Regions from separate parts of the Homo sapiens genome. Here region 2 is linked to region 1. The links come from fine-mapping of genetic effects on gene expression. A gene starts in region 1. The other region holds a variant in brackets. All regions are shown on one strand. Distances are between the middles of the regions.

Region 1 (4,388 bases):
AGTGCTGGGATTATAGGCATGAGCCACTGCACCTGGCCTTAAATTTATTTATGTTATGTCATTTAAGTCCATTTTTCCTGCTAGACTGTGAATGCTGTGAGGGTGGGGGCAGTGTCTGTTTTCTTGCTGCAAATGCATTCATTCATTCAGCAAATGTTTATTGAACACCAGAGTTGTGCCAAGTATTAAGTTGAACACTGGAGATCAGGACTGGGACTAAGGGGAGGCAAGTGACGTGTTGAGGGCACAAAATTTAATGAGGCACATATTCTCAGTCCTGTGTAAGACAGGAATTGGCATCTAAGAGTGAGGTCCTTTTAAAATTTTGCAACCTGGACACTTTGCTTGTGTCATCCTAGTATCAACCCTGTTGGAGACAGAAAAGTACACAAGACAGAAATGATCTCTGGCCTCTTTTTGCCCCTATAATATTCAACAACTATGTGTTGGTTATTCTGCCAGTACTATACCTTAAATTTACATAATTCTACAATACATTTTGTTTTATTTATTTAATTTATTATTATTATTTCTTTGAAATGGAGTCTCTCTCTCTCTCTGTCCCCCAGGCTGGAGTGCAGTGGCACGATCTCGGCTCACTGCAACCTCCATCTCCAGGGTTCAAGTGCTTCTCCTGCCTCAGCCTCCCAAGTAGCTGGTATTACAGGCAAGTGCTACCAAGCCCGGCCAATTTTTGTATTTTTATTAGAGGTGCTGTTTCGCCACGTTGGGCAGGCTGGTCTCGAACTCCTGACCTCAGGTGATCTGCCTGCCTTGGCATTCCAAAGTGCTGAGATTACTGGAGTGAGCCACCATGCCTGGCATGCTTTGTTCTTATTAGGGCCAATCTCCCCTCAGTACTAATAGTAATAACTTTATTGACTGCTTACCATCTGTCATGTTCTAGGTAATGAAGATACAGTTATCAGACAGGGTCCCTGCCCTCAACAACTCACTACCTAATGAGAGATCTAGACAAACATACACACATACTCATAGGGCAAATAAAATAATTTTTAAAATGTAATAAAGGCCATTTAAAAAATCACGCCTGTAATCTCAATACTTTGGGAGGTGGAGGAGGGAGGATCGCTTGAGCTCAGGAGTTCAAGAGCAGCCTAGGCAACATAGCAAGACCCTGTCTCTACAAAAAGTACAAAAAATTAGCCAGGTGTGACGGCATGTGTATGTAGTCTCAGCTACTCGGGAGGCTGAAGTGGGAGGATCACTTGAGCCCAGCAGGTTGAGGCTTCAGTGAGCTGAGATCATGCCACTGCGCTACAGCCTGGGTGACCAAGGGAGACCCTCTTTCAGAAAAAAGCAAAAACAAAGACACACCAAAAAAACACTAAACTAACTGCTGACCTGGAGGGTTTTTTTTTTTTTTGACAGAGTTTCGCTCTTGTCATTCCAGCTAGGGTGCAATGGTGTGATCTCGGCTCACTGCAACCTCTGCCTCCCAGGTTCAAGCAATTCTCCTGCCTCAGCTTCCCGAGTTGCTGGGATTACAGGCACCTGCCATCACACCCAGCTAATTTTTATATTTTTAGTAGAAATGGTTTCACCGTGTTGGCCATGCTGGTCTCGAAGTCCTGACCTTAGGTGATCCACCCACCTCAGCTTCTCAAAGTGCTGGGATTACAAGCATGGGCCATCATGCCCCCGCCAAACTAGAGATTTTTTTTTTTTTTTGGAGTCTCTCTCTATTGCCCAGGCTGGAGTGCAGTGGCGAGATCTGGGCTCACTGCAACCTCTGCCTCCGGGCTTCAAGTGATTCTCCTGCCTCAGCCTCCCGAGTAGCTGGGACTACAGGTGCGCACCACCATGCCTGGCTAATTTTTTGTATTTTTAGTAGAGATGGGGTTTCGCCATGCTGGCTAGGCTGGTCTCGAACTCCTAACCAAGTGATCTGCCTGCCTCGGACTCCCAAAGTGCTGGGATTACAGGAGTAAGCCACCGCGCCGGGCCGGTTCAAATTTATGCTTTTAAACTGTTGTCTCCCGAGAGACACACGCAACGTATTTTAAGCAAAACACTGGCTTGGTGTTGTGGTGGCTCATGCCTGTAATCCTGGTGATTTGGAAGGCTGAGGGTCGCTTGAAGCTGAGTTCGAGATCAACCTAGGCAATATATCTAGACCCCTGTCTCTATTTTTAAAAAAATTAAAGAAATCACTGGATGAGGAATGGAAAGACATTTTCTATCTCCCCAGGACAGTTTTTTAAAATTTAAAACTACTATTCCCAGCATGCCCTTCTCCCCTGGGTGGGGGGAGGGGACCTAAGAGAACTACATTTCCCTGAATGCAACGCCTTCACCGCTGGTTCTTCAGCATCTCGGGAATTGTAGTCCTCTGTAAAGATGTTTGTCCACAAATCCCAGCATGCACTTGGGATCTGACTCGTTTGGTAGGAAAAGGACTGGCTCTGACTCTTCACCCATCTTCACCCAGGCTGGCCCCTTTGGTGAAACTACAACTCCCAGGGGTCTGTGCGCGAGAAGGCAGGCGGGTTTTTCTACCGGAAGTCCGCTCTAGCTCTGGGCCCTACAACTGCACCCTGAGCCGGAGCTGCCCAGTCGCCGCGGGACCGGGGCCGCTGGGGTCTGGACGGGGGTCGCCATGGTAACGGGGGAGCGCTACGCCGGGGACTGGCGGAGGGGGGGCCCACGCGTAAATAGCCGAGGCTGGATCGGGCGCTGACAAGTCCCTTCTCTGCCGCGGATGGTCTGGGTCAGGCGCGGGCTCTGGGGATTGGGACCGATCCAGGGCCGGGAAGGAGGGCACAGGGCGGTGATTCTGCGCGCGGGGGTTACCAGGGGTCTCGCGGCGACGGGCATTGGGGGTGGTGTTCCAAGGGGAAAGGGCTGTGCAGGTGGGAAACGTTGTAGATGGTTGGAAGCTTTGAAACGAGAGGAAACTCGTGAGACACAGTCTTGTGGGTAGCGAGAAGGCATTGGAGGTGGGGAGAGGGCGTCCGAAAGAGGAAGGCGCTCTGGAAGTGTGGCGGGAGCGCTGGGACGAGAACGCGAGACCTTGGAAAAGGGGAGGGAGGTTTTCTTGATGGGAGGAGTCTCTAGAGACAAGGATCTGATTGCAGGTGGAGAGGGGATGTTGAGACAGGGGCAGGAGACTGCCTGTGAGAGAGGGATGATCTCAAGAAGAGACCTGGCACAGGAAACCAAAAGGAGGCAACTGTAGGGAATGAAACTTAAGGGTCTGGGAAAGCGCTGTAAAAGGAGAGAGGACCTGGAGGTAAGATGGACACTCGGAAAGAATGGGGAGCAACTGAATAGGTCTTTCCAAGAGGAGAGATCTTGTGGGGTGGGGAGTAGGCTTGAAAGTGTGAGACCTGGGGAGGAATCTTTGTTGGGGCAAAGACTCAACATTGGATTTAGGAGTGCCCCTATCCCCCAGGTTGGGGCTTTGGATCTAGGAAAGGGTTCTTTGGGCTGGAAGTTGGGAAAGAAAACGAATGAGAAAGAGTGTCAGAGCGGGGGCGGAGTCTCCTCCAGGAACAGGGTCCTTGGAGGCAAAATGTGACCTTTTGAAGAAGGGAGGAAGCTTGGGAGTGGGACAAGGGATGTCACCAGTAAAAAGCCCATTGAGGCCCCAAGGAGGGGAACTGAGACTGAGAAAGTGGAGGTCAAAAGGGAACAACTCCAGAGGAGGGGGATTGGAGACAGGGAAGGTTGGGGGGCATCTAGAGGGGACAGCAGAGGCGTGAGGATGCAGAGATTCAGGACGGAGGGGACTTGAGATTCCAAATGGGAAGAAAACAGGGAGAGGTATACAAGGGAATTTGGGAGTAAGAGGCAGAGCTTTTTGTCAACTCTGTGGGTTTGCTTCTAGTTCTCCTAACTGTGTGAATATGTCTCCGGCTCTGCTCCCAGGCTGTGGCTGCCTGGTGTAGGCCCCCCAACGTCCCTTCCTGCCTGGGACCCCTGCCCTGCTAGGAAGTGGTTTTCCCTGGCTCAGCAGGAGTTCTTGGAAGGAGAGTGTAACATCCTGTTCCGGTCCAGTTTGGTTGGTTGGGGGAGGGAGGATAGAGTGTGTGGAGAATGAGGCTTAGGAAAGACTCTCAGGCTGGGGCGGTGACTCATGCCTGTAATCCCAGCACTTTGGGAGGCTGAGGCAGGCGGATCACATAAGGTCAGGAGTTCGAGACCAGCCTGGCCAACGTGGTGAGACCCCGTCTCTACTAAAAATACAAAAATAAGCCAGGTGTGGTGGTGGATGCCTGTAATCCCAGCTACTTGGGAGGCTGAGGCAGGAGAATCGCTTGAACCCGGGAGGCAGAGGCTGCAGTGAGCCGAGATTGTGCCACTGGCCTAGGCGACAGAGTGAGACTCTGTCTCAAAAAAAAAAAAAAAAAAAAGGCTGGGCACAG
Region 2 (4,388 bases), 88 kb before region 1:
AGGGTCTCGCTCTGTTGCCCAGGCTGGAGTGCAGTGGTATGATCACAGCTCACTTGCAGCCTTGAACCTTTGGCCTCAAGCAATTCTCCCACCTCGGCCTCCAGGGTAGCTGGGACCACAGATGCGTGCCACCATGCCTGGCTAATTTACAATAATCAATTAATGTATATGCTGTATCGGGCTCTAGGGAGACAAGGAGAACAGAGAATCCTGTTTTCAGGAAGGTGAAATTTGGCTGAGAAGAACTACCAGGGAGGTTAAATTCAAAGTGCTATTAGGAGTAGGAGTCTCTTGAAGAATAAGGATAAGTTCCACAGGCAAAAAGGAATGGGGGACAAATTTTAAACCACACAAGGGGAATGCCCTAAGGCAAAGAAATACTAAGAAATTCTGCTTGGTTCACATCCTTCTGATAAATCGCATTCTTGTAGAACAATTTTAAAATTAATACTTGAAGCAGCATAAAACAGAAAGAAAGGGGTGAAAGAAGGGAGTGGGAGAGGGAAAAAAAAGGAGGGTGGGAAGGAGGGCAGGGGACAATGGCATAGTAACAGTCTTGCTGTTCCTGAGTCCGGGAAGGAGGATTATGAGTGCGACCTGCATCTGGTAGGCAACAAAGAAGCAAGGATGGGTTTTCAGCAGATAAACTGTCATACCCATAGACTGGACTGAGAAGGTGGGTGATGGTGGGCAGCAGAGATGAAGTGGAGGGGACAGAGCAAAGGCATTGCTGCCCTGTGGTATCTGCCAGAAGTGCAAACCCAGAACTTGATCACGATGAAATATCCAAAAAACTAAAACAAAGCCAAGGCCGGGCACAGTGGCTCACGCCTGTAATGCCAGCACTTTGGGAGGTCGAGGCTTGTGGATAGCTTGAGCTCAGGAGTTTGAGACCAGCCTGGGAAACACAGAAACCCCATCTCTACCAAAAATACAAAAAATTAAAAAAAAAAAAAAAAGGGAAAACAAAGCTAAGCTGAGGAACACCCTACAAAATAACTGATTGGTGATTTTATTTTTTTGGTTTTTTGGTTTTTGAGATGGAGTCTAGCTCTGTCGCCAGGCTGGAGTGCAGTGGCGTGATCTCGGCTCATTCCAACCACTGCCTTCTGGGTTCAAACGATTCTCCTGCCTCAGCTTCCCGAGTAGCTGGGACTACAGGTGCGTGCCACCATGCCCAGCTAATTTTTTTTTTTTTTTTTTTGAGACACAGTTTTGCTCTTGTTGGCCAGGCTGGAGTGCAATGGTGCGATCTTGGCTCACCGCAACCTCCGCCTCCCAGGTTCAAGCGATTCTCCTGCTTCAGCCTCCCGACTAGCTAGGATTACAGGCATGCACCACCAAGCCTGGCTAATTTTATATTTTTAGTAGAGACTGGGTTTCTCCATGTTGGTCAGGCTGGTATCGAATTCCTGATCTTCCGCCTCAGCCTCTCAAAGTACTGGAACTACAAGCGTGAGCCACCGCCCCGGCCTAATTTTTTGTATTTTTAGTAGAGACGGGGTTTCACCATGTTGGCCAGGATGGTCTCGATCTCTTGACCTCATGATCTGCTTGCCTCGGCCTCCCAAAGTGCTGGGACTACAGTCGTGAGCCACTGTGCTGGGCCAGATTTGACCACTAAATGTAACGTGTGGTCCAGGATAAGGTCCTGGACCAAAACAGTGTTTTGTCTGTTGCTATAAAGGAAGGTAGTGGGAAAACTGATGAAATGAGAATGTCTATAGATTAGATTACAGACAGATTAGTACTAGATCAATGTTGATTTCCTAATTTTGATAAATGCACAGTGGTTCTATAAGAGAATGTTTTTGGGAAATACCCACTGAAGTATTTAAAAGTAAAGGTGCAGGCCGGGCATGGTGGCTCACGCCTGTAATCCCAGCACTTTGGGAGGCCAAGGCGGGTGGATTGCTTGAGGTCAGGAGTTTGAGACGAGCCTGGCCAACATGGTGAAACTCCATCTCTACTAAAAATACAAAAAAAATTAGCCAGGTGTGGTGGTGCATGCCGGTAATCCTAGCTACTCAGGAGCCTGAGGTGGGAGGATTGCTTGAACCCAGGAGGCAGAGGTTGCAGTGAGTCTAGATCGTGCCACTGCACTCCAGCCTGGGTGACAGAGTTAGACTCCATCTAAAAAAATTAAATAATAAATAAATAAATAAATAAATAAATAAATAAAT[AAATAAATG/G]TAAAGGTGCATATCACACCTGCAACTTTCAAACATTTTATAGAGACAGATAAAGGAGGAAATTAATATAAAACGAGTGTCAAAAAGATGGACACTGAAGCCAGGCATGGTAGCTCACGCCTGTAATCCCAGGACTTTAGGAGGCCAAGGTAGGAGGATCATTTGAAGCTAGGATTGTGAGACTAGCCTGGGCAATAAGTGAGACCCCTGTGTCTACAGCAGGAAAAAAAAAAGATGGACAATGAGAAACCGCTTTGGGTACAGAATGGACTAAACAAAGCTATAGATCTGTAATGATTATGCCAAGTGCTTATTACTGAGATTCAAGCCTGGGGGGAATTATTTCTCTGGTTTCCACAGAAAACCTAGGAAATAAATACAAAGTCTTTGGTGGGCTCCAACTTAAAAACTATCTTCAGGCCAGGCGCAGTGGCTCATGCCTGTAATCCCAGCACTTTGGCAGGCTGAGGTGGGCGGATCACGAGGTCAGGAGTTTGAGACAGCCTGACCAATGTGGTGAAACCCTATCTCTATTAAAAATACAAAAATTAGCCGGGCATGGTGGTGTGCACCTGTAATCCCAGCTACTCAGGAGGCTGAGGCAGGAGAATCACTTGAACCTGGGAGGCAGAGGTTGCAGTGAGCCAAGATCATGCCACTGCACTCCAGCTTGGCAACAGAGAGAGACTCCATCTCAAAAAAAAAAAAAATGCTATCTTCGGCTGGGCACCGTAACTCATGCCTGTAATCCCAGCACTTTGGGAGGCCGAGGCGGGCAGATCACCTGAGGTCAGGAGTTCAAGAACAGCCTGGCCAACATGGCAAAAACCCGTCTCTACTAAAAATACAAAAATTAGTTGGGCGTCATGGCGGGCGCCTGTAATCCCAGCTACTCAGAGGCTGAAGCAGGAGAATCGCTTGAACCTGGGAGGCGGAGGTTGCAGTGAGTTGAGATCGTGTCACTGCACTCCAGCCTGGGCAACAGAGTGAGACTCTATTTCAAAAAATAAAAATAAAAATAAAAATAAAATAATAAATAAAGCCATCTTCCCTGCTTTACAACATCCTAAGTAAATATGAACACTGTCACTCAGCTTCACACGATGCTGCTGAAATTATCAGCAGAGCCTAGTAGGCTGTCCACACCACACAATACTTAATACCACTGTAGATAATATCAGAGTTAGAAAGAACAGATTGGAAGGCTGTAATCCCTACCTTAGTTTCAAATTAGTTTAAGCCTGTGTTCCTGAGCCCAACTCCGAATGCTCAAGAACCCACCTTAGTGAAACTGGAAGGCCAAAGGGACACATGAGAGCTCAAATGAATAAAGCAAATGGTTTCAACACAAGTAAAACTTAATTATTTCAAGAACAATGCAAAAAAATTTCCCAAGACAGTCTACCTTTGTGATAGCATCAAGTTGTCAGAGGAGCGGCATAACCAGAAGATATCCCAAACATCCTAATCATTTTCTTACCTCAGAAAAAAATCCTATCAATACATGGGTCTCAGGCATCCGAACAATGCTGAGGGCTGTATTAATTTTACTAAACCAAAATGTATTATGTATCCACTATAGTACTGAGGACACAATGATAGCACAACCCTCAAGGAGTTCACAGATCTGCAGGGAACACAGGCGGGCAGGCAACTGACAGAGTGCTGATGCTCTGGTGGGTGAGGTAGCACAGAGAAAGCGCCCAAGCAGCCATAGCTGCCACCTTGAGCACAGAACAGCTCCTTCGTAGGCCAAGGCCTAATAAATGCCCAACGACAGCCTCAAAACTGCACACAAATGGAGAATCTACACATCTGACAACTGTTGGGACTGCTCAGCTCCTTCTCCAAGAGCATCTCACAATCAACAACAACTGATTCCAGAATCTCCAGATGGCTTGACCCTCCAGTAAGCATCCTGTAGACAGTGAAAGTTATAAACTGCTATGAGGTAATACTCTTACCTGTGGCTTCAATGTACTCAATACATCTTTCAATAAAAATGGGGATCGGCTTCTCTGGAGTCACGACAGTTGTTAAGGGCACCCCAAAATAGTTACTCTCCCAGGTTGCCTTTGTGATGGATGGCCGGGGTTTGGGCTTTGGTTTCTGTCCAGGAAAGAGAAAGGGAAGCACAAAAACAAAGTGAGTATCAACATGTAACTTAAACATCAGTAAGGCTTCCAGAAGGGAAGCA

Alleles and levels. Positions count from the first base shown, and alleles are read on the strand shown. Sizes are in standard deviations (SD) of each study's normalised expression.
For the expression in monocytes after interferon gamma of the gene that starts at base 2,541 in region 1, allele AAATAAATG in region 2 goes with a lower level than allele G (moderate effect, 0.66 SD a copy in Fairfax 2014).

Evidence for each region. PIP is the estimated chance that this variant, and not a neighbour inherited with it, causes the effect. A credible set is the group of variants that fine-mapping cannot tell apart.
Region 2: its variant is the best candidate, but not a certain one, in a credible set for the expression of AP2S1 in monocytes after interferon gamma (Fairfax 2014, PIP 0.63).

What each region holds. Positions count from the first base shown.
Region 1 is chr19:46,848,999-46,853,386 of GRCh38, reverse strand. It overlaps AP2S1 (adaptor related protein complex 2 subunit sigma 1), which reads left to right and starts at 2,541. Exons shown (of 5, transcript NM_004069.6): 1 at 2,541-2,623. The coding sequence starts at 2,621. RefSeq lists an enhancer at 2,217-2,526.
Region 2 is chr19:46,937,176-46,941,563 of GRCh38, reverse strand. It overlaps ARHGAP35 (Rho GTPase activating protein 35), which reads right to left. Exons shown (of 7, transcript NM_004491.5): 3 at 4,156-4,300. Among named protein-coding and RNA genes, the nearest start is that of ARHGAP35, 78 kb to the right of the region's middle. The variant AAATAAATG/G (reference allele first, on the strand shown) is at 2,184.